Homo sapiens: one gene and its partners. The protein of the gene in region 1 purifies or fractionates together with the protein of each later gene. This does not show direct contact. Each region holds a gene or a part of one and is shown in the gene's direction. Other genes may lie near its edges.

Region 1 (3,500 bases):
CCCAAGCATATCCAGATTCCCCCATGCAAATGTGCCCACAAAGGGTAATAAAATGGCACATCTGCAGGCCAGATGCACCAATGACAGGTTCCCCACAATGTCCCACATGCTGCCAAGACCTATAGGCATTATTTACTGTATTTTTTGCCTATTCTGTGCTCTTTGGAGTAAAAATATTGTTGAAAATGTCAAAAAGTCCTGCAGATAACCCAGCAGGTAACTGATTTTTTTAAAAAGAGGAAGCATTTCTGTTTATAGCACAGAATGCCAAGCTATTGGAGAAACTGCACAGTGGTGTAAGTGTGAAGCATCTTACAGACAAGTATGTTGTTGGAATGATCACTGTATGTAACCTAAAGGAACAGAAGGATAAACCGTTGAAGTTCTGTCCTGAAACTCATGAACAGAAGTTAAAGAAAAATAGAAGGAAAGGGAAGCCAAGGGCTCAGAGAGGCCTGGGATCAGGCACATACACTGTCAGCCTACTTGTTCCTTTGGGTTCAAACAGTGGAACACTATCCCAGTGGAATCTCTAGGAATCGCTATCAAAGGACTCAGACTTTTTTAGAAAAAAAGAAAAGGAAAAAGTTTACTTGCTAAGAATGCAGGGAAGTCAGACTTCAAAAGAGCTAGATCACCAAATACAAAACATAAACTTATTGAAAGGAAAAAAAAACAAGGTTATCAAGTATACGTTTGCCTGTTCCTGGTAGATAAACACCCGCTTTCTTCTGTGATTATCTTATCTTGAAAGGTCATGACATGCCTTTTTACATCAGCATAGCAAAAATCAGTGATAAAAGTGTTTTTAGGGAATCCGGGCTTATGAGAAACATTTCATTATTATTTGGGAACGAGAACAGTTGTTTTTGGTTTATCTGAGAACAAAAGTGGTTTTCATTTTTAAATTGTGTAATGTGAAGAAGTGCTTGGTCATATTGGAATCAGGGCAAAGTGTGTGTTCTTGTTTTTGTTCTACTGTGTACTAGTGAGTTCATCCTTAAATCTTTAAAATTTACTTTCAGTAATACACGTATGTCTACTGAGCTAAAAGAAGGGACAATTTCTTTAATTTTTTCATGGAGTAATGTTAAAAGTTTAGATTTTCAGGCAAACTTAAAACTCATGCATTCAGTATTCTGATCTAAAGTGACAGAAAATGACTAGGTGCAGTAGCTCATGCCTGCAGTCCCAGCACTTCAGGAGGCCAAGACTGGAGGCCACAAATTCAAGAACACAGTGAGACCCCATCTCTACAAAAAATTTAAAAATAAAGTGCCAGAAAACAAAAAGCTAGACTAGACTTCTGATATTCAGACTGAGCTATATCTCAAAATATGGCAGTCAGACCACTGTCTGCTGCCTAACTCCAGCAGCTTTTGCCATCATCTGTTTGGTATTCTAAGAGAATAAAAATTTCAAGCAACTTTGAAAATTGCCACTGTGAACGCATCTTCAGGATGCTGACACATATTTAGAAAATATAGCCTGTTATTTAAAAGGTAAACGTAACCCCTTCAAAGCACTACATAGTTAAATGTCATGATATTTGTGATTTTTGACCCAGCATACATCTATTTCAATGTAGTAACTTCTTAGAATTTTAGAAGAAAGGCACTTCTAAGTACTTTGTGATGGTAGATAATAACAGTAGTTGTCCTAAATCATACACTCCCTCTGCTGCTATGTTACCCACCTCTAAATTCAATTATCCCTCTTTGGACGGGATGTACTATAAATTATATATATGCTATGTCAAGCAGTTAATGTGTCTTTTGAAAGATCCTATGTGGACAGTCATTTTATCTGTAGTGTTGATGTGCTGGTCTCTAATTTGATTTCAGTCCAAAAGAATATCCGCTAAGGATGCCTTAGCCCACCCCTACCTAGATGAAGGGCGACTACGATATCACACATGTATGTGTAAATGTTGCTTTTCCACCTCCACTGGAAGAGTTTATACCAGTGACTTTGAGCCTGTCACCAATCCCAAATTTGATGACACTTTCGAGAAGAACCTCAGTTCTGTCCGACAGGTTAAAGGTGAGTATCTGTTTTGGCCTTTGGCCAGGCAATATGCCTAGTAACATTTTCCATTAGGTGGCCATGAAGAGCTGAGATCTGGATGGTAACCAAAGCTCCCCTCTATGTTTATTTTACAACCTTGCGTATAGCTGTGTGTCCGGGGCATAACAAAGCATATTTAATATTATATCCAGGGGAAGGTCGGGGAGAGGAATGAATATTTTGTTCTTATTTTCAAAGTTTATTTAGTGAGTATGACTCAAAATATGTTTAATATGTATTCACTCAGTGTCATTTCATTGATTCAAACGTATTGAACTTTATATAACATACAAAGTTCCATAAAGGATAAACATTCACTGAGGGAATTATTCCTTGGACGATGACAAGAGAAGGGAATTTCTGATAGTGTACTCATAAAATTTTGTGGCAGGATCTCCTATTGGAATACAGTGGGAGTAATGACATCCAAAATTCTGAGTGATTTTAGTGTCTACTGTAGGACATTTTACAAGAGAGAGAGTAGTCCCCAAAGTAACCACCTGAAACTATACACCTAGATACCAACTGAGGTCTTTAAGTGATCTTCAAAAAGGCAATAATTGCCAGCAACTTAGAAGAGTTCACCCATAATGCCAAACCTGTGGAGTCTCTCTCAAATTTATAGGCCATTTTACTCTTCCCACTGATGGGGTTGCAGTCTGTGTAATGCCACCAGTAGGTTTCTTATATTTAGCAACAGCTGTCATTTTAGTTTTAGGAAGTTCAGCTGAATTCTGCTTGATAGATGATGTGTGTGTTTGATTTAACTAAACCAGTAGGCAGTGCTTTTCAGATGCTGGCTAGAGTTCGCTGAGAATTCACTGCTCCCGGGCTTGCAAATTGTCATGGATTGTATGATGTTTGTTTTCTCCACAGAAATTATTCATCAGTTCATTTTGGAACAGCAGAAAGGAAACAGAGTGCCTCTCTGCATCAACCCTCAGTCTGCTGCTTTTAAGAGCTTTATTAGGTAACTATATGTATGTAATTCAACATTCTTGTTAGAATTAAAAGGATGCCAGTGTTACTTCATTATTCAGCATATTTGTTTTTATTTAGATAACATAGATAAAAGGTGCAACAGAAAGTTTCTGTTATGAGGTTTGGCTTTAGTCAAAAGTGTATTAAAACTGTAAGCATCTGGGCTGGGCGCGGTAGCTCATGCCTGTAATCCCAGCACTTTGGGAAGCCAAGGCAGACAGATCACCTGAGGTCTGGAGTTCAAGACCAGCCTGACTAACATGGAGAAACCTTGTTTCTTCTAAAAATACAAAATTAGCCAGGCATGGTGGTGCATGCCTGTAACCCCAGCTACTTGGGAGGCTGAGGCAGGAGAATCACTTGAACCCGGGAGGCAGAGGTTGCGGTGAGCCGAGATCGCACCATTGCACTCCAGCCTAGGCAACAAGAGCGAAACTCCATCTCAAAAAAAA
Region 2 (3,500 bases), on another chromosome or scaffold:
CCCTTGCCAGTGTCAGCAGAGGGCCCAGCTGCACAGACCACTGCTGAGCCCAGCAGGTCGTTTTCCTCAGCCCACAGACACCTGAGCAGAAGGAATGGGCTTTCCAGACTCTGCCAGAGCAGGACAGCGCTCTCTGGTAATGACCTTCGACCACTGCAGGCCTTAGCGCGTGGAAATACAAATGTGGAGTTGCTCTGTGTTCTCATGGAAACCCTCTCACCAGGGATTGAAGTCACTCTATTCCTGCAGAGAAAAGTTCGTGGTTTAAGTGCTCGGCTCATGCTGGCAGATGACTCCGGCAGGACCCTTCCTGCTGCTTTTACTCTGCTGTGATTCCCAGGCAGCTGGCGCTTCTTTTCAGGCAGCAGGTGGAACTCACCTTCACATTTCAGGGTCAAGTTACAACAAAATGTTATTTCTTACTTTAGAGTATGTGAGAACGCTGTTCTAGGTTAGGCTATTTTACTTAGGGAATTGCAGCTTTGCTCGTGCAGTTTACTGAGCTAAACGCGGTTTAGCTGGTGGACCAAGAATCATGGGGCAGAAGTCTGTTGGTGCCTCCTATGTCCAGATTCCGTTGGTGCCTCCTTTGTCCAGGCACCCCAAAGGACTGGGCCATGGTGAGGAAGGAAGCGTCACTTGCCTTTCAGGGGCTGTCTGATGGAGGCACTTGGGGAGACAGCAGGCTGTGTGCTTGAAGTTGGGGTAGACCTGGAAAATGGGGAAGTGGGGCATAGAGCTGCGGGAAATGGTGGCTGGGAGTCTGGTCTCCAGGTCAAGGAGCACTTCGACACTGGAGTAGGAGGGTGTTGGAGCTGAGCTTGTGCACTGGAGTGTCTGAGGGTGTAGAGCGGAGGGCCCTGTGGAGAGTGCCCAGGATACTGCAGGGAGGGGTGGGCTGGGAGGCACACAGCGCCCTTGGGAGTGGGCTTCACCCAGGCGCTGATCAGGAATGTTCTCAGTGAGTGTTGACAGGTGTGTTCCTTTTTTGGAGCATCATTCTGGTGGCTGCATGAGGAGCAGGGGTGGGAGCCGGAGGTACAGGGCCTTGAGACATGAGAAGGAGCTGCGCTTGGTGACTGCTGTCTGGGGAAGAGCAGGGGCGAGAGTGGCTGGATGGCCACGTGGTTTCCAGCCTCAGAGAATGGTCGGGGTCAGGCCACTCACTGAGAAAGTCAGGGGTCCTGGCTGGAGGACATGGAGGGGAGGGGATGGGAGAGAAATGGAAGGGTCAGGTCTTGAGTGCTTGGTTTTGAGCACTGGAAGAATGTATCTGGTGTCTCCAGAGATGGGGAAGCAGGCGAGTGGGCCGTGGGAGGTCCAGGCTGGAGGTGCGAGTGTGAGAGTCTTCAGTGCATTTCTAATTAGATGTATTTAAAGCTACCGAGGAATGGGTGAGATGGAGCCAGGGTCACTGAGAGGTGGGAGGTGGGGGAGCCCAGGTGCCCGAGGAGGGTGGTGTGGGAGGAGGGTGAGGCCTGAGGAATGACGGGGCTGAGGGTTTTGGGAGCCATTGGAGGCGTTGCTGAGAGAACGCTGCACAAGGAGCTCTTGAATCGTAGGAACGCTTCCAAGGAGGAGGTGACGGGGCAGCCACCGGAGTGGCCATGGGGTCTTGGAATGACTGACAGAGGACAGAAGGTGGGAAGGAAGGAACCTTTGAGTGTAATTAAGCTTTTTTGTTTTTTGGGACAAGGTCTGACTGTTGCTCAGGCTGGAGTGCAGTGGCGCAGTCATAGCTCGCTGCAGTCTCAAACTCCTGGGCTCAGGCAATCCTCCTGCCTTAGCCTCCTGAGTAGATGGGGCTGCAAGGGCACGCCACTATGCCCAACTGATTTTTACAAATTTTATTTTTAGTAGGGACAGGGTCTCGCTGTGTTGTCCAGGCTGGTCTTGAACTCCTGAACTCAAGCAACCTTCCTGCCTCAGCCTTCCAAAGAACTGGGATTATAGGCACGCCTGGCTTTGAGTGTAATTTAGACACAGAAGTGTTGATCTTATGCTGTTTGTGCTTCCGAGTGGACCTGGTGGTTGCCTAAGTGGATTCTGGGGACCATGTTCAGACACGCAGTGAGAGTGTGTGTTAGCTGTGCAGACTGACTTAATCCTTAGATCTTTTTGCAGGAGTTGAGGGCAAGGGCTGTGTGCTTTGCCTGTTTCAGAAGGTGGACTCTGGCAGCTGTGTGAAGTCTAAAGCTTCGCTTCGCTTCTCTTTTCAGAAGACAGATGGAGCTCCTATTGTCTATCATCACTGGCTGCCCAGAATATTTGTACAAGTAAACTGCACTGCCCTGCTGCCCCTGAGCACACGGACCCGTCCGAACCGCGGGGCAGTGTGTCCTGCTGCTCCCTGCTGCGGGGACTGTCCTCAGGGTGGTCCTCACCTCTGCTTCCGGCCCCTGTGTGCAACCCTAACAAGGCCATCTTCACGGTGGATGCCAAGACCACAGAGGTATTTGCTTCTCTTTTAGATCCAGCTGTGTAGATGTGGATTTGTGGTTTGTGCCTTAAACCTGGGATTTGTGTGTTTTAATGCAATTAGAAAAACATTTGGGCACTTCGGGAGGTGGGAAGTTTGCTTGAGCCCAGGAGTTCAAGACCAGCCTGGGCAACATAGCAAGATCCCATCTCTACAAAGAAATTAGCCAGGTGCGGTGGCACACACCTGTAGTCCCAGCTACCAGGGAGGCTGAGGCAGGAGGATCACTTGAACCCAGGAGTTCAAGGTTGCAGTGAGCTCTGATTGCGCCGCTGCAGTGAGCTCTGATTGCGCCACTGCACTCCAGCCTGGGCAACAGAGTGAGACCCTGTCTGTCAGGAAAAGGCTGGCTTCTGCATGGTCGTCCTGGGCTGTTCTGGGCAGCTGGTGGAGCTGCTGGGGATGTCTGCATCCTTGCTCCTCTTTGTGATTCCTCAGATCCTGGTTGCTAACGACAAAGCTTGCGGGCTCCTGGGGTACAGCAGCCAGGACCTGATTGGCCAGAAGCTCACGCAGTTCTTTCTGAGGTCAGATTCTGATGTGGTGGAGGCCCTCAGCGAGGAGCACATGGAGGCCGACGGCCACGCTGCGGTGGTGTTTGGCACGGTGGTGAGTGGATGCGGGTGCAGCGTTCAGTCTGGCCTCAAGACCAGCAGTGTGTGGCAGGAACAGCTCAGTGTTCCCTACCAGGAGCTCTGCTGGGGGTTGGGTGGCACCAGGACATCTCAGCTTCTTCAGCTGAAAATGTCATCCCAGGCGCCGTTTCCCCGCTTCAGCTGCAGTGGGGGTGGGGGCCCTTTAAGAACGAATCATCGCAGGAATGGACACTGTGGCTGTGGCTGGACTCCTGGGAGGTGTCGTGGGTGGCCCTTGCTTTGTCTGAGGGCTGTAGCTTCACTAATGTTTTGCAGTCCTGCCGGGCAGCACATCAGATGCTCAAGAGTAATATGGTTTTATTGTCTATTGATTTTTACATTCTGTTTGGTGTTTGTGGGAGCGGGCGGGGGTGTTGGCCTGGAAG
Region 3 (3,500 bases), on another chromosome or scaffold:
CAGATTAAAGTTGATTGGGGTTGTTATGTTTTGTGTAGTTTTTGGAGGCATTTCCCTTTCTTAGAGTATCATGTGATTTATGGTGATAATTAGGCAGAAACTTGTCTTCCCTACAGATGCCAAGATTATAGAGGGACTTGCTCTCACCAGAGACCAGATGACAGCATCCGTAGATATTTTTAGAATGGACCTCATCATTTATTTGGTCTCCCCATTTCATTTTCTTTGTATCAGCAATTGATTTCAAACTTGTTTATTGGGCAGGGAGGGGAGAGAGGGCGTCTTCCCTTATTAATGAAAGTCACTGATGGGACAGAACAGCATCTTTGTATTTATTGTTAATTGGCATATTGCCTAGTACTTGCAGAGTAAACTACAATTCCATCAGCTGTAGCTTCATTTTCTTTTCAAAAGTTTTGCTTAATCTGATGTGTTTTCTTACAGCATTTTAAAATTTTATTTATTTATTTTGAGACCGGGTTATGAGACTAGTTTTTGTATTTTTGGTAGGGACGGGGTTTTGCCATGTTGCCCAGGGTGGTCTCCAACTCCTGGTCTCAAGGGACCGCCCCCCTCAGCCTCCCAAAGTGCTGAGACTACAGGCATGAGCCGCCATGCCTGGCCCCTTAATCCGATGTGTTTTTAAACTAGAAGAGCATCGACACATACACATAAATCTCACGGTTAACTAAATAACCGTATAACTAAAATGTCATACTTTAAACTATTTAAGAATGACATGAGCTTTCTTAAAACCCATGAAACTTGTACCCAAGCTAAGTATCATTGACTTTCCCAGCTCAGTAGCTGGGTTTCATCACTTAATATGCTCCCTCTACTCTTTCTGTCCTTGATTGAATCAGATAAGCATGTACAAACATTGAGCCACAGGAGAGCCATTAAAAATCTAAGACAGATGAGCTGCTGCTTTCCTTTTGATTATTTTTATTACCCCAGTTTTCATTGTAAATGGTGATTCTGGTGTTCCTCTGAGAAGGTTAATTGTATTTCTGTTCAACATTTATCTTCTATATTTTCAGTGTTTTACAATCTGTTTTCCTTCTGTCACAGAGGAAACCAAAGGCCTTTCTGTTCTCTGGAGTGGGAGTTTCTGTATTAAATTTGTCCTCTGCAAGAGTTGCCTCTATACCTGGGCCAAATCCTCTACCAATTCAGCCTATAAGCACCAAGGTGGTTTCCTGAGCAGGCCTCCCTGGGAGGGCATTGCCTGGGGGACCTCAGCGGAAGCTGTAGAACATAGCTTCACAGGTGACCCCAACCCCAATCTGCAGAAAGGGAAAGTGGTGATTCACACATCTCGTTTTTAATAATGGAGTTCTCTGAAGATTGGGGCCTTTTGATGAAGGAATGGATATTAAGCCTGGGGACTGTGGTTGGTTAGTGCTTTAGACTGTCCCACATGGGCCTCCTACTCCTGGCTTTGGGGTGATGGCCTGTTCTGCTCAAAATTGTGCTCTGTTAGGGGCTCATGGGTGTCCTCTGTCCTCTTTCCTGCTGTGTTGGCCCAGCCCACATTGGAGCAAGCCACACTCCCTGTCTCTGTACTTGGGGAATGAAGTGTGTCACCTTCCCATTATGCACTGGCTTCTGTGGCTGCATAATTAATACCCAAGGGAACTGGAGAGAGATCTGAATTAGGTAGTACTTTACAGCTTCTCCCTCGGCGCTTACAGTAAGTCAGGATGGGGACTTGGGGATGGGAGTCCCCTGATGACTGATCACATAGTGATGTTGGATGGTGGTTTATTAAGTGTTATTGTGAGGGGAAAAAACCAAATCCTCTTCCAGAGGACTGTGCCTGTGAAACGCTATCTAATCATTCATACTTTGCAGGGCAAGGTAGAGTAGTTAGAATAGCACTGACTTTAGCAAGCTACGGTCTTCACAGATGCTGAGATCTAGTATTTACTTCAGCTTTTACTCCCTCTAGAATCAACAAGCCATTATTTTATAGTCCAAGGTAATATTATCTAGTAGCTTTACAAAGCAAAGAATGCCCCAAAAAACCATCAGCCAGGGAAACTAAAACCTAGGGATAGACAGGAAGAAGAAAGAGGCTTCTTTTTATACTTTATTGTCCCTACCTCCAGTAAAACAACCTAAATTCTTCAATTTGGAGCTTTAACAAGGATAAGTAAATATGACCATGGGCATGTAACATTGTAAATACTAAGTCCTGCTGTGTTTGCAAACATTGAGAGTGAAAGGTAAGATTGCCAGCAAGTGCAGAGTCACAGAAGAGATTGAAGTTACAGTACACTCATGAGAATTCCTGATGACCCTACGGTACAACCTCTAAAGGTGGGAGAAGCAGATGTATATAATGTGATTTTGTGTGTGAGTTTTTTGATGCTTTTTTCATTACTTATTTACCTTGTCTGGAGAGAAAAGCACGAGTTCATGTTGTTTCACTACCACTTTTCTATCCATTTCTTGGCCTAGAGCCGTTTCTTTACTACCATAACTGCCAACACTATCTCCATAAACAAAGAATCTTATGTCTGGAGGTCTGTCATGTCACGTCCTTTTGCTATTAAGACAGCTCTATGAATATACTTTTTTTTTTTTTTTTAATCCCTTAACTTTTCTGGGCCCAGTGGTCACATGACATCTGATAAGACTTGTATAAATTCAGATGCTCTAAGAGCACCTTTTTTGTGCCTTTCCATTGAAGACAAAATAATAATTGGAGGCAGAATAATAATAATGTTGTTGATTGTTAATGGGGTGTTTTATGGGGGATTTCTTGTCCATATATGTGTTATGTAATTTTTTTTCTCCAAATTTGTAATACAAAAATCAAATTCCTAAGCCAGGTGCATTGGCGTGCCTGTAGTCCTAGCTACTCAGGAGGCTGAGACGGAAGGATCTCTTGAGCCCAGGAGTTCAAGTCCAGCCTGGGCAACATAGCAAGACCCCATTTCTTAAATTCTTTTTTTTTTTTTTTTTTTTTTGAGACGGAGTCTCGCTGTCGCTCAGGCTGGAGTGCAGTGGTGCGATCTTGGCTCACTGCAAGCTCTGCCTCTCAGGTTCACGCCATTCTCCTGCCTCAGCCTCCCGAGTAGCTGGGACTACAGGTGCCCGCCACCGCGCCCGGCTAATTTTTTGTATTTTTAGTAGAGACGGGGTTTCACCATGTTAGCCAGGATGGTCTCGATCTCCTGACCTCGTGATCTGCCCTCCTCAGCCTTCGAAAGTGCTGGGATTACAGGCGTGAGCCACTGCGCCCGGCCCATTTCTTAAATTCTTAAGATGGCCCGCTTAGTAATTACTTACTCTTTTTATGGTGGGGAATAGGGGAGTCAAGATTACCCACACCCAGCACTGCAGACTTATTAAGGCCTTTATAGAAAGTGGCCATTTCATCTCCACTGGTGTTGGGGTATTCGTGGAAAAGGGTGGTAAGCAATTCAGTTAGTCCACATAGCCAGTAGGGAAGAACCAGAAAAGTATAACTCATCTACTTAGGATGAGCGGCT
Region 4 (3,500 bases), on another chromosome or scaffold:
CCCCATTCGGTGGCTCAGAACTAAGTACTGTTTCGACTTTTCTTTTGTGAATTGTTCCTGAGGTTTAAATCTTACGGTTACTTGTCGTGGACTTTGCTTTTAACCCAAATTCTTCCTGATAGATTTTTTTTTTCCTTCTTTACCTAGAGCACATTTAAGGAATAATATATATAGTGAAAATTAAGTGTCACACAAGGAAGAGTACAGTCTTTAAGGCATTTATGACTATAAAAAGCATTCCGCAAATTTGGGGCATTGAAGTGTTCTCTGCTTATAAATTTGACAGTTTTGATTTACTTGATATGTTTCTCAGTTTTTCTTGCGAGAGTTACAGACTCTAGTTCAAATCGTAGGCATTCCTTTTTTGCTTATGGCTTCTTTAGTTAAAGATTTGTTTGGAAAAACTTTAGGAACTTAATGTATATGTTGTTCACATCAGCATAGTGCAAGTTTCTTGGAGTAAGTCTAGATTCATTTTATTTATTACAAAGTTTTCAAACATACATTTCATGTTATGGCTGCATCTGTTAATAAATTTTTATTTAATGAATTTTGTTTGTTGCTTCAAAAATGAGGAAAAGCAATAAAGTTTAGCAAGAAGGAAATAAGGCAAAGGGAGGTGTTTAGAGTTGCAGTCCCTTAATATCGCAGATTGTTTACTGGTAAGTGGTGGGGAGGGGTTGGTGGGAGGTTTTGTGGAAGATGATACCAAAAAAAAAAAAAAAAATCCATCAATTGCGCATATGCTCCCCTCCCCTTAAGGTTTACTTAAACAATATGTTTCGATTTTGCCGCAAACCATTCTGCACTACTTCTGCTCCAAGAATCCACCACTATCTTGGTTCCTGAGAGATTAAGGATGATGTTTTCTGTTGTATAATGAACAGCAGTATTATTTGAACAAAGGTAACACTTTTTGATTTGTGTAATTTTTTAGTAGCTTGTCATAGGATACCTATAATATGAGAGGAGTTCTAGCAATGTAATTGCCTGCAAATGTTTGAAGTACTCACGATAGCTTTGCTATGTTTGAATTATTGCCAATATATGTGCATGCTATTATAGGTGTGTTTTATATGTGGAATGTATGTAGACCGATAATACTTAGACACATCTTGATGGTGGAATTTAGAATGCTAACTATTAACTCTGTGCTTGAAATGTGAATCTTTTAAGGAGTTAACATGACCTACATTATGAAGTCTAAAAGTTTGAAATGAGTATGGAGTTTAAACATAATGAATCAATTGTTATCATAATACTTATATCTGCTCTGAATTTACTAAGGAATTTTTTTAAATGAAAAAAATTATAAATCAAAATGCCACCTTTCAGTGTATTGTAAGAAATGCTTCTGAGATCATTTTTTAAGTCTCATTTCTGTTAAGAGGAGCAGTTAAGGGACAGGACTGTTTGTGAGTATATCACTTTATGGGCTACCACTTTATAGTTTACAATTCTATCATCTCAAAACGTTATGTAGAAATAATATGGAACATGTAAAGACTCTGTACTATGACCCAATGCATTTTTCCCTAGGGTGATGGATTCTGTGCGTCACCCAAATGTGATGCTATTTGCCAGGCTTGTAATACTGGTTTTGAGGGTTGATCTATGTCCTATTTCATCAAGCAACACAATACAACAACTTTGGTATCTAGGGTAATTGACACAGTCAAAATAGTCTCTGGAAAACATTCCATATACTTTTAAGTTAAGTCAGAAGTTAATGTACATATTAAATTTATTTAACATGAATAAACAAATGATTTATTGTTAGCTATTTGTCTAATATACTAGATAGTGTTAGAAGGAAATATACAAGTATTTACAGTTTATGTTCCATTTCTTTTTTTCTTTTTTGAGGGGAGCATGGTTCTCTTGTTTGCGTTCATAATAGCTTTATCTGTTAATTACTTTGTATTCATGATAGTGAGTAGTATAGTATCATAAATCATAGTAAACATGTTTATATTATCTGCTATATATGTCCCAAGCTTGGAAAAAGCATTAATATTACTAGTTGTTAAATTGAGTATTATAGTAACCAGGAATGAATCCAGTACCGTATAAGACAATAGATAAGACATCAACTGCTATTTAAACACTAAAAATACCTTAGCTGTAGAAAAAGAAAGATCAAAAGGATTTCAGAGCTGTTTTTACTTGTAGAATTTGGACAGAATGTATAAAGCTTACAAATCAATAAACATTAATAATATAACATGTGCTTCCTGATTAGATTCTACAATACAATGTGAATTGCTATTTCAATTTCTCTACATATCATATGGAAGATCAGATATGTTTATAAATAGTGTAAAAATATATGGCAGAAATTAGTTTGTGGAATCTAATTTCTCTATTACATGATACACTTCATGTACAAAGGGATCAAGCATTACTAATCTAGTGTTAGCTTTTGCTCTCTGAGCTATGCAGAAGTGGAATATATGAATTTGTGGCTTCATATTAAATAAGTGCGTACATGTACATGCAGGATAGCTATAGTCTCACTTGCTTAGAATGTTTTTACATTACAGGCACTACATGGAATTTTAGCATATTGCATATTTTTTGAAATGACTTTAGTCTTTGTAATGCCCATTTTAATTACTTAATGCATCCCAACACCTATTTGAGGGTTAATTTAATTGTAATTTTGGTTCTGAAATGAGAGCATGATAGACAAAACAAATTAAAAACCAAATTCTACTTGTGCCTACTTTGTGATGTCATTATCTGCACATCATCTTTAGCTTTGCAAGATGTGGAAATAAAATACATCAGCCCATTTTCTCTCAATACTCTTAAGTAGCTCTGAACATATAAAAGTTCCTAAAAGAAAGTTTTGTATTTGTTTTTGCTTTGCTTTTTGATGCCAAGTTAAGACAGGTCATATATATATTAATTTTAATCAAGGCCCATATTACTAAATTTTTCAATACATATTCATCTCTTTGTTGTATGATTCATAATTCTTTATCGATTATTTTTTGATATACCTTTGAGATCTTTTAAAATGATATGTTTTACCTGTGTTTGGCTGCTGAATTTTTATATTAGTAATTATATTTAAATTATAAATTAAAAAATACGGAATATGTTAAGCTGTCTTTAAATTAATATTGGAAGTATACCTTTTTAGAAGATTATTGCAAAATTTGCTCCTCAGTTCTGCAAACTTAGGGAAGTTTTAGAAAATAATTTACAAGTAGTCAGTAAGTAGTTACACATTCAAGGATTGAAAAATATGAAATACTATTTTCTGTAGCTTATAAACCAACACTAAGAGATGTTTCTCCTTTGTATTTATAATGCATTTGAATTACATTCTTTGGATGTATGATGTGGTAAATTACTGTAAGAAACTCACTGTCATCTAAACCTCAATTATAATAAACTATTTTACTCTATCCCATCACTGTTTATTCTATTTTTAAAGTCCCGTTTTTAAGAAAACTTGTGCTTTTGAAGGAATGCCCTCATTATTTATAACA
Region 5 (3,500 bases), on another chromosome or scaffold:
TAACTGTTAGCTTTTACTATAGCCATTGAGGCCAGCCCTCAAACTGAGGAAACCAGCCTTTTCCAGTAATTGTTCTTCCCAGTTGCTTTGTGAGGCTGGAGCACTTCAAAATGAAGATTTGCATTCCCAACCAAATGAGACCTGTTTGTTCTGGAAATTGCCACAGTACATCCAGAATTTTCAGCTGGTTCCATGTCTCTTTTCTTTTTTATAGTGAAAGCAAATTCAGTATGATTGTGCTGCTCACCCTCCTACACGTATTATACTGTGAGATACTAAAACTGGCGTGTCCTCAGGTTCGCTTCTGCTTCCCTGACATAGAGCATCTCTGGCCACTTCTAAGAATGTTCCTAAGGTCCTTCGTGCCTAGCTCTTTTTTAAAGATAATTGTTCTTGTGCTACTGTTACCATATGTCCCCAGATCTCACAGTCAGCATCTTCTCTTTTGATTATTCAACAGAATTAAGGACCATTATCCCTGGAGGGTCACAAGGTGGATACCATGAAGGGGGAGAGATGAGGGCAGGGCATTAAATCTGAAGAGATAGATGCCAGTGGGGATGGAGAGGAAGGAGAGAGAGCCCAGGTATTCACCTGTTAATGCTTTGTCTTTGCACTTAAAATTGGAAAATTTACACCTCTGTCTCTACTTCAGTTTTAAAGGTGAATTTTCTCTACCCAATAATGTTTTTAGTTACTTTGCCAATATTGTAAGTAAGAGCTCTATGTGGCCTGAAGAAGTTAGGTACCATCCCATGGGATGATTTACGCATAACATATTTTCTTACCTATTCTTCCCTGTTTTTTTTTTGTTTGTTTGTTTCTTAAACTAGTGGGCCAGCAAGCAGAAATGTAGTAATGATCTATCCCAGAGTATCTGTTAAGTGACATTTTGATAGTGCCACCAGGCTGTTACAAACCAGTTTACCTCTAGATAATTCCAGGGTTTATCTTTTCAATTGGGACTCAAGCTGTGAAACCAAATTATGGCATGTAATACTTTTTATTGGCCGTGCATGCATTTTGCCATGAGTGAAAGCCAAATGTGGCCCGCAGTTGGTTTTATGAAAGGGTGAAGGAGATTCTCAAGAGAAATGCAAAGCAACTAATGCTTTTCAGCATTAATGTATCATATTCAGTTATTTCTCATTCGACTATGAGTCCAGTTTTGGGTCCTACCCTTTAAGATAAACAATAAACCAGAGTATTTTGAAAACATTTGGGGGAGAATGAAATTGGGATTGGAATGTAGGTGGACTGGAATAGTGCTGGAATGAATGGATATGATAGGGAATCTTTAATTAAAATATTTTTCATTTGGAAGGGACTCAAGCCTTGTGTGGCTCCATAAAATTATGATTTCTACTTAATATTAAGGGCAAGTGTTCTGGCTGAAATAACCAGAAATGAAATCAGCTTCCTTATAATGCAGGAGTTCCTGTGTCTTGGAGTATCCTCTAGTAGACTGACTGTTTCCCATAAGGAATGCTATCAAAAGGATCCCTTCTTTCAGGGATGCCTCTCTTCTTCTCACCCATATTGTTTATTTAAAATATTGAAAATATAGGGCTAGAGACAAAGCCTTATGCAACTTAGAGTCCTCACTCTAGGATGACAAAATTCATTAATCACTGTTCACTTGGAGCTGTTGATTGATCAGCAAGTCATCCACGTCAGTACATGGAGCCCATGTTTGAGTCCTGATTGCCTCTCAGTTCCCAAGAGTGGATTTAAGAACCAGCCTTGTACATAATTGTCATAAGTAATTTGCTTTGAAAAAAAGCCATATGGACTGCAAGTTCTACATTTTTCTCTTTTTTCCAGTTGAAAATAAGTTTGAAGGATTCACTTTCAGAAAAGTATAACAATATTGCATTTTATACATAGTGTATAATAAGTTAATTCAAAAATCGTAGATGTATCCTAGTAATTATCAGGGTTGGTATGTAATAGCTGACATACTTACTTGACAAGTACAATTCCAGTTTATCCCAAAGCATTTCTGGTAGGGATGAAGGTAGAAGAGAAGAGATGTATCATCTCTCCTTTTACCTAGACAGGAATGGGGAACCAGTTCTATAGGCATTAAGTGACTTATTTCACACAGGTTTTTTTTTTTTTTTTTTCCTTAAGTTATAGGACCTAAATTCTGGCCCAGAACCAGGGATTTCTTAAAACATAACCAAGAGCTATCCAGGAATTTTATTTTGGAAAGTTTCCAAATTCCTAATGTTGAAGTAGTGGTGCCCCTACCATAGTCATTTTTACACTGAAGACTAATCCTTTACATAGTCTTTCCAGGTCTTCACTAGAGAAACCGATAAAGTTTTGACAAGGTGCAAGAAAGAATAATATTCTTTCTAGAAGCACAGTTGGCTCTTGTCTCTAGTGAGGGGAGGATGCCAGAAGAGCAGGGGAGTTGGTTTTATAATAGATATAATTGCAAGACCAGTTGGTAAAGTTCATCAATACCGTCTTCACTCCCATCACCTCCATCAGTGTCCAGGATCTCACTTCCTTCAGGCACATCGTCCTGTATTTATTTCTCCCAGATTATTGTTCACTAACCCTGCTCCAAGGAAGAAAGAACTGTTTCTTAGTTGAAAGAACACATGATTTTGCAGTTGAATCACATTGAGTACAAATGCTAGCTCTACCATTTATAACCTGTATCATTATTTCTTAGAGTCTCAGTTTCCACAACTGAAAATGGATTTGATACAACAGCCCCACTAGCTTATTAGTAAGATTCCTTTGACTATACCATACTAGTGGTTCTCAACTAGGTGGAGGTAGATTTTGTCCCCCAGGGACATGGGGCAGTGTGTGGAGACATTTCTCATTGTTTTCAAGGGGCTGCTACTGGCATCTAGTGGGTAGAGCCCAGGGATGCTGCTAGCCAGACATCCTGTAATATGCAGGGAACCGCCTAAAACAAGACTTTCTTCAGTCCAAAATGTTAGTAATGTCAAAGTTGAGAAACGCTGTTTGAAGCCAATGTGTAACTCCTAGTGGGTAAGTCTAGGATGATATGGATATTAATGAACAACAGCCTTAGGCATGTCTCTGCCCAAGTATACTTGCTTTTTTAAGAAAGGGGATTTGGTGGTAGAGTGGACTCTCTTAAGACTGGAACATCTTTAAAAGAAATGAAATATCAGAGTAACAGATTGTAAGGTTAATATATCTGCCCCAAGAACTGCCCCCTCAGGCCCATTCCAGTAAGAAGAGCCCATCCTTTACACCTGGGGGATATACCCTAGGGCAGGAGTCTCCAGTCTCAGTCAGGTACTGTTCAGTCAGTGGCCTATCAGGAACCAGGACTGCACAGCAGAAGGCGAGCAGGGAGTGAGATAGTATTACCACCTGAGCTCTGCCTCCTGTCAGATCAGAGGCAGCATTAGATTTTCATAGGAGCATGAACCCAAATGTGAACTGTGCATGCAAGGGATCTAGATTGTGTGCTCCTTAGGAGAGTCTAATGCCTGATGTTCTGAGGT
Region 6 (3,500 bases), on another chromosome or scaffold:
GCTGCCGACAACCACATCTTACCAAACGAGTCAGTAAGTGTGTGCCGGGGGCCGAGAGGCTGGGGTGGCGGAGCCCAGCGGTGTGGTACGTTTCGCTCTTTTAATATCGGGAACAGTTAAAACCATACAGAAAATGCCAAGTACAGCATAAAAGAATTTTTACCAAACGAGTCAGTAAGTGTGTGCCGGGGCCGAGAGGCTGGGGTGGCGGAGCCCAGCGGTGTGGTACGTTTCGCTCTTTTAATATCGGGAACAGTTAAAACCATACAGAAAATGCCAAGTACAGCATAAAAGAATTTTTCCGATCCATTTGCTGGCACGATGCTTTGTCAACTCCAGTGAGTGAGCACGTGGGCTGGCTCTGCACGTCTAGCGGCCCAGAAATGCACAAATGCCCACCTCACCAGCTGGGCTCGACACCCGAGAGCCCCCGGCTCTCCTTCTGGAACACACTCAGGCTTCGCACAGCCCCGTCTTGCCCTGCGTCATCTGTGGGGTGGGAGCGCTCCCTGAGGGCATGTTGGGGTGGCGGCTCCGTGAGCGGGGTGCCCCTTTGAGCCAGTGCCCATGGTCTACAGTTTAAGGATCCACCGGCCTTTTTGGATCATTTGGAAACTCCACTCCCTGTCATCCCCAGGCTTATGACCAGAAAAACATAAGACGGCGCGTCTACGATGCCTTAAACGTGCTAATGGCCATGAACATCATCTCCAAGGAGAAGAAGGAGATCAAGTGGATTGGTCTGCCCACCAACTCGGCTCAGGAATGTCAGAACTTAGAGGTGCCCCTTCAGCCTTCCTTCAACCTTGATTTCCCTTCAAGTCCGTGTAGATGTTTTAGTCGTCGGTCACTCAGAAGGGTCTGGGCTCCGTGCCCTTATGCTCTCTGTGTCCGGCTGGCAGACGGTCATGCAGACGTCTCCCTGCGTTTCTCAGTCTTGGCTGTCAGGGGAGGGAGCATGGTTGGCCCAGACCCACTAGAGTCTGTTAAACTCTAGTGTAGGTTAATTCTGAATCCTAGTTTGTGGGATTTTTGTTTTCTTTTTAGATACCATAGTTAAATCCAAGAAATGAGAGGAAAGGGGAGAAGGTATAGTTTAGAAATGGAAAAAAAACTCACCTATATCTTGTAGCACCTGCTATGTCTAGATTTGTCCATATCCCTTCGATTACATTCTGGGTAAACATAGGTAACACTGTGAGGATGTGAGGATGTGGGTTTTAAAAAACGCTCTGTGGAACAGTTGTGATGATTCTTCACATGGGTGGTTTGTTTTTGAAGGTGGAAAGACAGAGGAGACTTGAAAGAATAAAACAGAAACAGTCTCAACTTCAAGAACTTATTCTACAGGTAAGAGAATACGTATCTGTGGAGGCAGGGTAATTTTTATTTTACTAATTTAGCTTTATAACGGCAACATACTGCCTTGGGTTACACTCCTGCATGGCAAATCAAATGACTGCTCTAAGATTCTGAGTGTGAGTTCATCTCATAGGTGTTGAACGTGGGCCTTATTCCCAGAGCGAGGTTGTGCACGTGCGTGTGCATGCATGTGTGTGTGCGTGCATGCATGCATGTGTGTGTGTGTGCATGTGCCTGTGTGCGTGCGTGCGTGTGCCTGTGTGCGTGTGCATGTGTGTGCGTGCATGTGCCTGTGTGCGTGTGTGTGTGTGCATGTGTGCATACATGTGTATGTGTGTATCTCTCGTCACAGCATCTAAATAGGCAAAAGACAGATGGAGGGATGACTTCATGCAAAAGCAACATTTGAAAAATCTCCTCAGAGGTGCTTAACCCAAGGCCCAGGTGCCAGGCAAGGCCTGTAAAACTGTGGTGGACACAGTGCACCTGGGTCTTGACAGTGCTGATCAGGGCCCTGGAGCTGGCCTTCCCCACCTCCCATTGAGTGCTGAGGGTGGGCGGCACCACTGGGGGCCCCGTGTCTGGTGTGGAGGGGGTTGTGTGCAAGGTGCTCACTGCAGAGCTGGCTGCTGCCCTGACCAAGGTGTGCTCGAGCCCTCCCAGAGGGGACGGTGTGGCAGCCGTGGTGATGGAGGCTCGTGGGCAGGAGCTCCTCAGGACCCACAGAGTGTCAGGAGGGACAGTCCTGGTTGCCAGTGCCTTAGGACCTGCCAGGTGGGGATAGACCCAGGGTGGCCGGGAGAGGAAGGGAATCTCCTGGCTCTACATTAATAGCAAAGAAGGTCTCTCCAAGTGGAACACTTGGTTTGGGGCCCTGAGGCCCTGGCCCTGGATTCAGCCTTGCAGGGCCTATTCCCCCAGAGGAGCACCCCTGCAGCACATGGGCCCTTCTGCGTTCCACTTTCCAGGGTGGGCAAAGTCCACGGCACGGCACCCCCTCCAAGGCCATCACCCTGTAGGTGCCATGGTGGTAGGTGGTCTTAGAGGGGTGAAGGACAGCAAGGAATCGACTTCCAAAATTGGTGTTTTGTTGAGCGCCGTTGCCGTGGAGGACACTTTTATCAGGGCACGGATGGCTGTGCGCCCGCTTTCCCTTAGTTCTCCCCTCAGGATCCCGTTTCCTGAGCGCTTTTCTCCCTGGGCTGCAGAGGTCAGCACCCAGCGGCCGGCGCTGGCATTTCAGATGTCCAGGCCAACTCCTCGCTGTCACGTGGACGCAGGGAGGGCTGTGAGGACCCCTCGAGCACAGGGGCTGCGTTCTTGTGCCGCCACGGGCCACCTGGCTCCTCTTATTTTTTTTAGCAAATTGCCTTCAAGAACCTGGTGCAGAGAAACCGGCATGCGGAGCAGCAGGCCAGCCGGCCACCGCCACCCAACTCAGTCATCCACCTGCCCTTCATCATCGTCAACACCAGCAAGAAGACGGTCATCGACTGCAGCATCTCCAATGACAAGTAGGTTGTGGGCGGGGAGCTGTTCCCTGGTCACCCATCTCTTTTTTAGGGAGCCGACCCTGTTGGTATTGTCACTAGGACAAGTTTTAAATGTTGTACAAATAGCAAATGTTGCACAAATTGCTGTCCATTGGGGGGTGGTGGGAGGCTGCCGCCATGTGGCAGATGGAAGGTCTCTGTTCCGGGAGCGTGTGCCTTAGGGCATGTCCTCCTGGGGAGAATAGGCCTCGATTTGCCTCTCATCTCATTTACTTCAGAGTTTATAAATTCTGTGAGGAGACACTGATGACTGGGAACCGGGAAGCTGTGTGTGGCGGTCAGCGGGTCAGCCGTCCTGGCTCCACCCCAGTGTGTACCGTCTCCGCTGGGAGACCCTGTCTTTCTGACTGTGCCTTTCCCCTTCAGATTTGAGTATCTGTTTAATTTTGACAACACATTTGAAATCCACGATGACATAGAAGTGCTGAAGCGGATGGGCATGGCTTGCGGGCTGGAGTCGGGGAGCTGCTCTGCCGAAGACCTTAAAATGGCCAGAAGTCTGGTCCCCAAGGCTCTGGAGCCATACGTGACAGGTCAGCAATGCCCAGACAACCTGGCGTGGCTGTGTGAGGAATGGCCCCCAGC
Region 7 (3,500 bases), on another chromosome or scaffold:
TATAGGTATTGAAAGAATTTTGACCTGAAATATAATAGGTCAGGCCAATAAATAAGTGCTTTCATTCTCTAATTTTTTGTAGCCCTTTGTTTTGTTTTTTGTTTTTTTTTCAGATGAAGTCTCACTCTGTCACCCAGGCTGGAGTGCAGTGGCATGATCTTGGCTCATTGCAGCTTCTGCCTCCCGAGTTCAAGCGATTCTCGTGCTTCAGCCTCCCGAGTAGTTGGGATTACAGGCGCTCACCACCATGCCTGGCTAATTTTTTGTATTTTTAGTAAAGATGGGGTTTCACCATGTTGGCCAGGCTGGTCTCGAACTCCTGACCTCAAGTGATCTGCCTGCCTCAGCCTCCCAAAGTGCTGGGATTACAGGTGTGAGCCACTGCACCCAGCCTATTGTAGCCCTTTGGATAGATACTTTGTTTGGAAATTTTATCTTAATTTTAACCTCTTGCCTGTTGCTGATGCCATTTTGTAGAAACTGAGCAGTTGTGGGTATAGGAAATGTGGAAATTCATGCTGAAGCCTGTGTGTTTCAGAGTTTGATTCTGTATTTGATGCTTAATTGCTTTGTAAATACTTTTGACCTCATCCCTGAACCACAGATGTTAATATTTGGCTTTTGGAAATAGAATACCAAAATTCTACATGTTTTCCTTTTTGGCGGGGGTTGGGGGGGTGGTTCTGGAAAACCTGCTAGGCAAATTCTACATCATTTTTCTTTCTTTCTTTTTTGTTTTTTTTTTTATTTTGAGACGGAGTCTTGCTCTGTGGTCCAGGCTAGAGTGCAGTGGCGCAATCTCAGCTCACTGCAACCTCCGCCTCCTGGGTTCAAGCAATTCTTCTGCCCCAGCCTCCCAAGTAGCTAGGATTACAGGCGCCCGCCACCACACCCAGCTAATTTTTGTATTTTTAGTAGAGACAGGTTTAATCATTTTGGTCAGGTTGGTCTCAAACTCCTGACCTCAGGTGATCCGCCCACCTCAGCCTTGCAAAGTGCTGGGATTATAGGCGTGAGCCACTGTGCCCAGCCCTCATCTTTTGCTTTTTAAACTTGTTTTTTTCAAACTCAACTGATAGCGTTTCCCTTCACCTAGTTTCCTTTCATTGGGAGTGTGAGCATAAGCCTGTTCATGATGGTTGCTGTTTTTTCTCTTTCAGTTGATTGATATTACAGGCAAGAACCAGGATGAATGTGTGATTGCTTTGCATGACTGCAATGGAGATGTCAACAGAGCTATCAATGTTCTTCTGGAAGGAAACCCAGACACGGTAGAGTGCTTATAGAGTGTTCTAGGACATGGGTCCTCAATTGGGAGGCTAGTAATGTTCTAAAAGTAGCAAATGGCAACATACCTTAAAGCAGAGCACCTTTTTCTTGAAGTAAAGTTGGGAACTTTCTTGGAGATTGTTCACCACAGGTTATAAATACTTAAAATTTATGTGTACTACATCCTTTTTATGAGGATAATGCTCATAGGAGAAAACAGTGAAATCAGTCTCTGCTAATTGGCCTGGAATAAATTATTTATTCCAGGCTAGTGACTGTTTTCAGGCTGTGGGGTTAGGCTGAATTAGAGGTGCGATTTGATAGCCTTGGATATTGCTGTTGAACAAAGTCACACACTATACTTGATTCTGTTTTTTTTTCTTTTTATTTTATTTTATTTTATTTATTTTACATATTTGATTCTGAATTCAGGACATTCCCCTCAATATCAGCTTCGCATTGCACACTACTGTTTCATTGCCTGAACTTCCTTCTGTTGAGGTAGCAGAGAAACAAGCTTTGTAGCCTGCTGACCATCCCTGGAGATGATAGGGGATATCTTGGAGGATCTCTTGCCCTGGAATTTAGACAAGTCGCTTTCACTTCTCCTTCCCACTTCATGAGAATTCTGTTTTTATGCTTGTCTTATGTTTGTACCAAATTGTAATCCTCTGACTGCCTTATTGATCTTCAGAATGTTCCTGCAGTGCTTACTAGAGAAATTTTGTTTTTTTAATGAGCAGTGTATTATTATTATTATTATTATTTTGAGCCAGGGTCTTACTCTGTGGCCCTGGCTGGAGTACACTGACATGCTGCAACCTCCTCGTCCTGGGCTTAGGTGATCCTCCTACTTCAGCCTCCTGAGTAGCTGGGACCACAGGCATGGGCCACCATGTCCAGCTGATTTTCCCATTTTTAGTAGAGCCAGGGTTTCTCCATGTTGCTCAGGCTGATTTCAAACTCCTGGACTCAAGCTAGCTGCCCGCCTCGTCCTCCCAAAGTGCTGGGATTATGGGCATGAGCCACCGCACCTGGCCCAGTGTATTATTTTGAAATCATTTTCATTTATTGGGTCTTATACTGGGGCTCTTTGGTTGGAATAGATATCAAAATTCATCCTTACAGATAACAACTTGTTTTTTTTCTTGAGTCAGAGTCTTGCTCTTGTTGCCCAGGCTGGAGTGCAGTGGCGTGAACCTGCTCTCTGCAGCCTCCACCTCCCAGGTTCAAGTGATCCTGTGCCTCAGCCTCCAGAGTAGCTGGGATTACAGGCATTCACCACCATACCCAGCTAATTTTTTTTTTTTGAGACGGTGTCTCTCTCTGTCTCCCAGGCCGGAGTACATCTCGGCTCACTGCAAACTCTGCCTCCTGGGTTCAAGCAATTCTCATGCCTCAGCTTCCCGAGTAGCTGGGACTACAGGCATGCACCACCATGCCTGGCTAATTTTTTGTATTTTAGTGGAGACAGTGTTTCACTATGTTGCCCAGGGTGGTCTTGAACTCCTGAGCTCAGGCAATCCTCCTGCCTCGGCCTTCCAAAATGTTAGGATTACAGGCGTGAGCCATGAAACCTGGCCTCAGATACAACAGCTTTCTGATACTACAGAGTCACTCCAGCTAAATGCAGGAGGTTTGTCAATTTCTTTGAGACAATGGGAAATAATAATGGAAAACTTTTAAAAACAATTGAATTTAAATTGGTGGGTTTTTTCTTCAAAAGTGTTATCCTGGATTAAATTTTACACTGTTGACCTTATTTGAATATTTACTATCTGGCCAATCAAGATATGCTTTTGATTTGTTTTGGGTTTACTCTAGAATAATTGTCTCCAGATTTTATGGGGGGAATCAGGTGGGGCTATTTATGTTTTTTTAAAAGTCTGAATGTTTTTTCGCAAATCACATTTTATCTTACCTTCCAGCATCTTCTGTCTAGTGCTATAAGGCTGATGTTATACAGTATCAAAAAGGAAAATAAGCTGGAGAATATAGGTTTATGTTACGAATAAACTAGCTACTAGTGAAACCAATGGGAAGCAAAGTCAGCTCCCAGGGATATTGGATGTATTTGGGTGGGTGAGATCATTTCAGAAAACTGAAGTCGCCTTTGGGAAGATAATAGTAATTCTTTCTCCTGACCCATCTTGTGCCAGCAACAGATGTGCATACAGAGGAGGGAGAAAGGTTACAGTTTCCTGAAACTTGCCAGGTTTTGAGATAGCAGC

Evidence for each region.
Region 2: the proteins of NLK (region 1) and PASK purify together in Homo sapiens (affinity purification with mass spectrometry; one large-scale study listed by BioGRID and IntAct). This does not show direct contact.
Region 3: the proteins of NLK (region 1) and FOXO3 purify together in Homo sapiens (affinity purification with western blotting, with the first as the bait; one study listed by BioGRID). This does not show direct contact.
Region 4: the proteins of NLK (region 1) and TRPS1 purify together in Homo sapiens (affinity purification with mass spectrometry; 2 studies listed by BioGRID and IntAct, with this or other methods). This does not show direct contact.
Region 5: the proteins of NLK (region 1) and OBI1 purify together in Homo sapiens (affinity purification with mass spectrometry; one large-scale study listed by BioGRID and IntAct). This does not show direct contact.
Region 6: the proteins of NLK (region 1) and TFDP1 purify together in Homo sapiens (co-immunoprecipitation; one study listed by IntAct). This does not show direct contact.
Region 7: the proteins of NLK (region 1) and UBAP2L purify together in Homo sapiens (affinity purification with mass spectrometry; one large-scale study listed by BioGRID and IntAct). This does not show direct contact.

What each region holds. Positions count from the first base shown.
Region 1 is NC_000017.11:28,189,177-28,192,676, forward strand, and holds part of NLK (serine/threonine-protein kinase NLK), read left to right. Parts: intron 1-1,844; coding exon 1,845-2,043; intron 2,044-2,943; coding exon 2,944-3,037; intron 3,038-3,500. UniProt on the Homo sapiens protein: Serine/threonine-protein kinase that regulates a number of transcription factors with key roles in cell fate determination. Positive effector of the non-canonical Wnt signaling pathway, acting downstream of WNT5A, MAP3K7/TAK1 and HIPK2.
Region 2 is NC_000002.12:241,139,473-241,142,972, reverse strand, and holds part of PASK (PAS domain-containing serine/threonine-protein kinase), read left to right. Parts: coding exon 1-136; intron 137-2,219; coding exon 2,220-2,452; intron 2,453-2,917; coding exon 2,918-3,088; intron 3,089-3,500. UniProt on the Homo sapiens protein: Serine/threonine-protein kinase involved in energy homeostasis and protein translation. Phosphorylates EEF1A1, GYS1, PDX1 and RPS6.
Region 3 is NC_000006.12:108,675,917-108,679,416, forward strand, and holds part of FOXO3 (forkhead box protein O3), read left to right. Parts: intron 1-3,500. UniProt on the Homo sapiens protein: Transcriptional activator that recognizes and binds to the DNA sequence 5'-[AG]TAAA[TC]A-3' and regulates different processes, such as apoptosis and autophagy.
Region 4 is NC_000008.11:115,658,976-115,662,475, reverse strand, and holds part of TRPS1 (zinc finger transcription factor Trps1), read left to right. Parts: intron 1-3,500. UniProt on the Homo sapiens protein: Transcriptional repressor. Binds specifically to GATA sequences and represses expression of GATA-regulated genes at selected sites and stages in vertebrate development. Regulates chondrocyte proliferation and differentiation.
Region 5 is NC_000013.11:78,652,656-78,656,155, reverse strand, and holds part of OBI1 (ORC ubiquitin ligase 1), read left to right. Parts: intron 1-3,500. UniProt on the Homo sapiens protein: E3 ubiquitin ligase essential for DNA replication origin activation during S phase.
Region 6 is NC_000013.11:113,633,253-113,636,752, forward strand, and holds part of TFDP1 (transcription factor Dp-1), read left to right. Parts: coding exon 1-33; intron 34-637; coding exon 638-781; intron 782-1,281; coding exon 1,282-1,350; intron 1,351-2,724; coding exon 2,725-2,876; intron 2,877-3,281; coding exon 3,282-3,448; intron 3,449-3,500. UniProt on the Homo sapiens protein: Can stimulate E2F-dependent transcription.
Region 7 is NC_000001.11:154,227,455-154,230,954, forward strand, and holds part of UBAP2L (ubiquitin-associated protein 2-like), read left to right. Parts: intron 1-1,160; coding exon 1,161-1,271; intron 1,272-3,500. UniProt on the Homo sapiens protein: Recruits the ubiquitination machinery to RNA polymerase II for polyubiquitination, removal and degradation, when the transcription-coupled nucleotide excision repair (TC-NER) machinery fails to resolve DNA damage.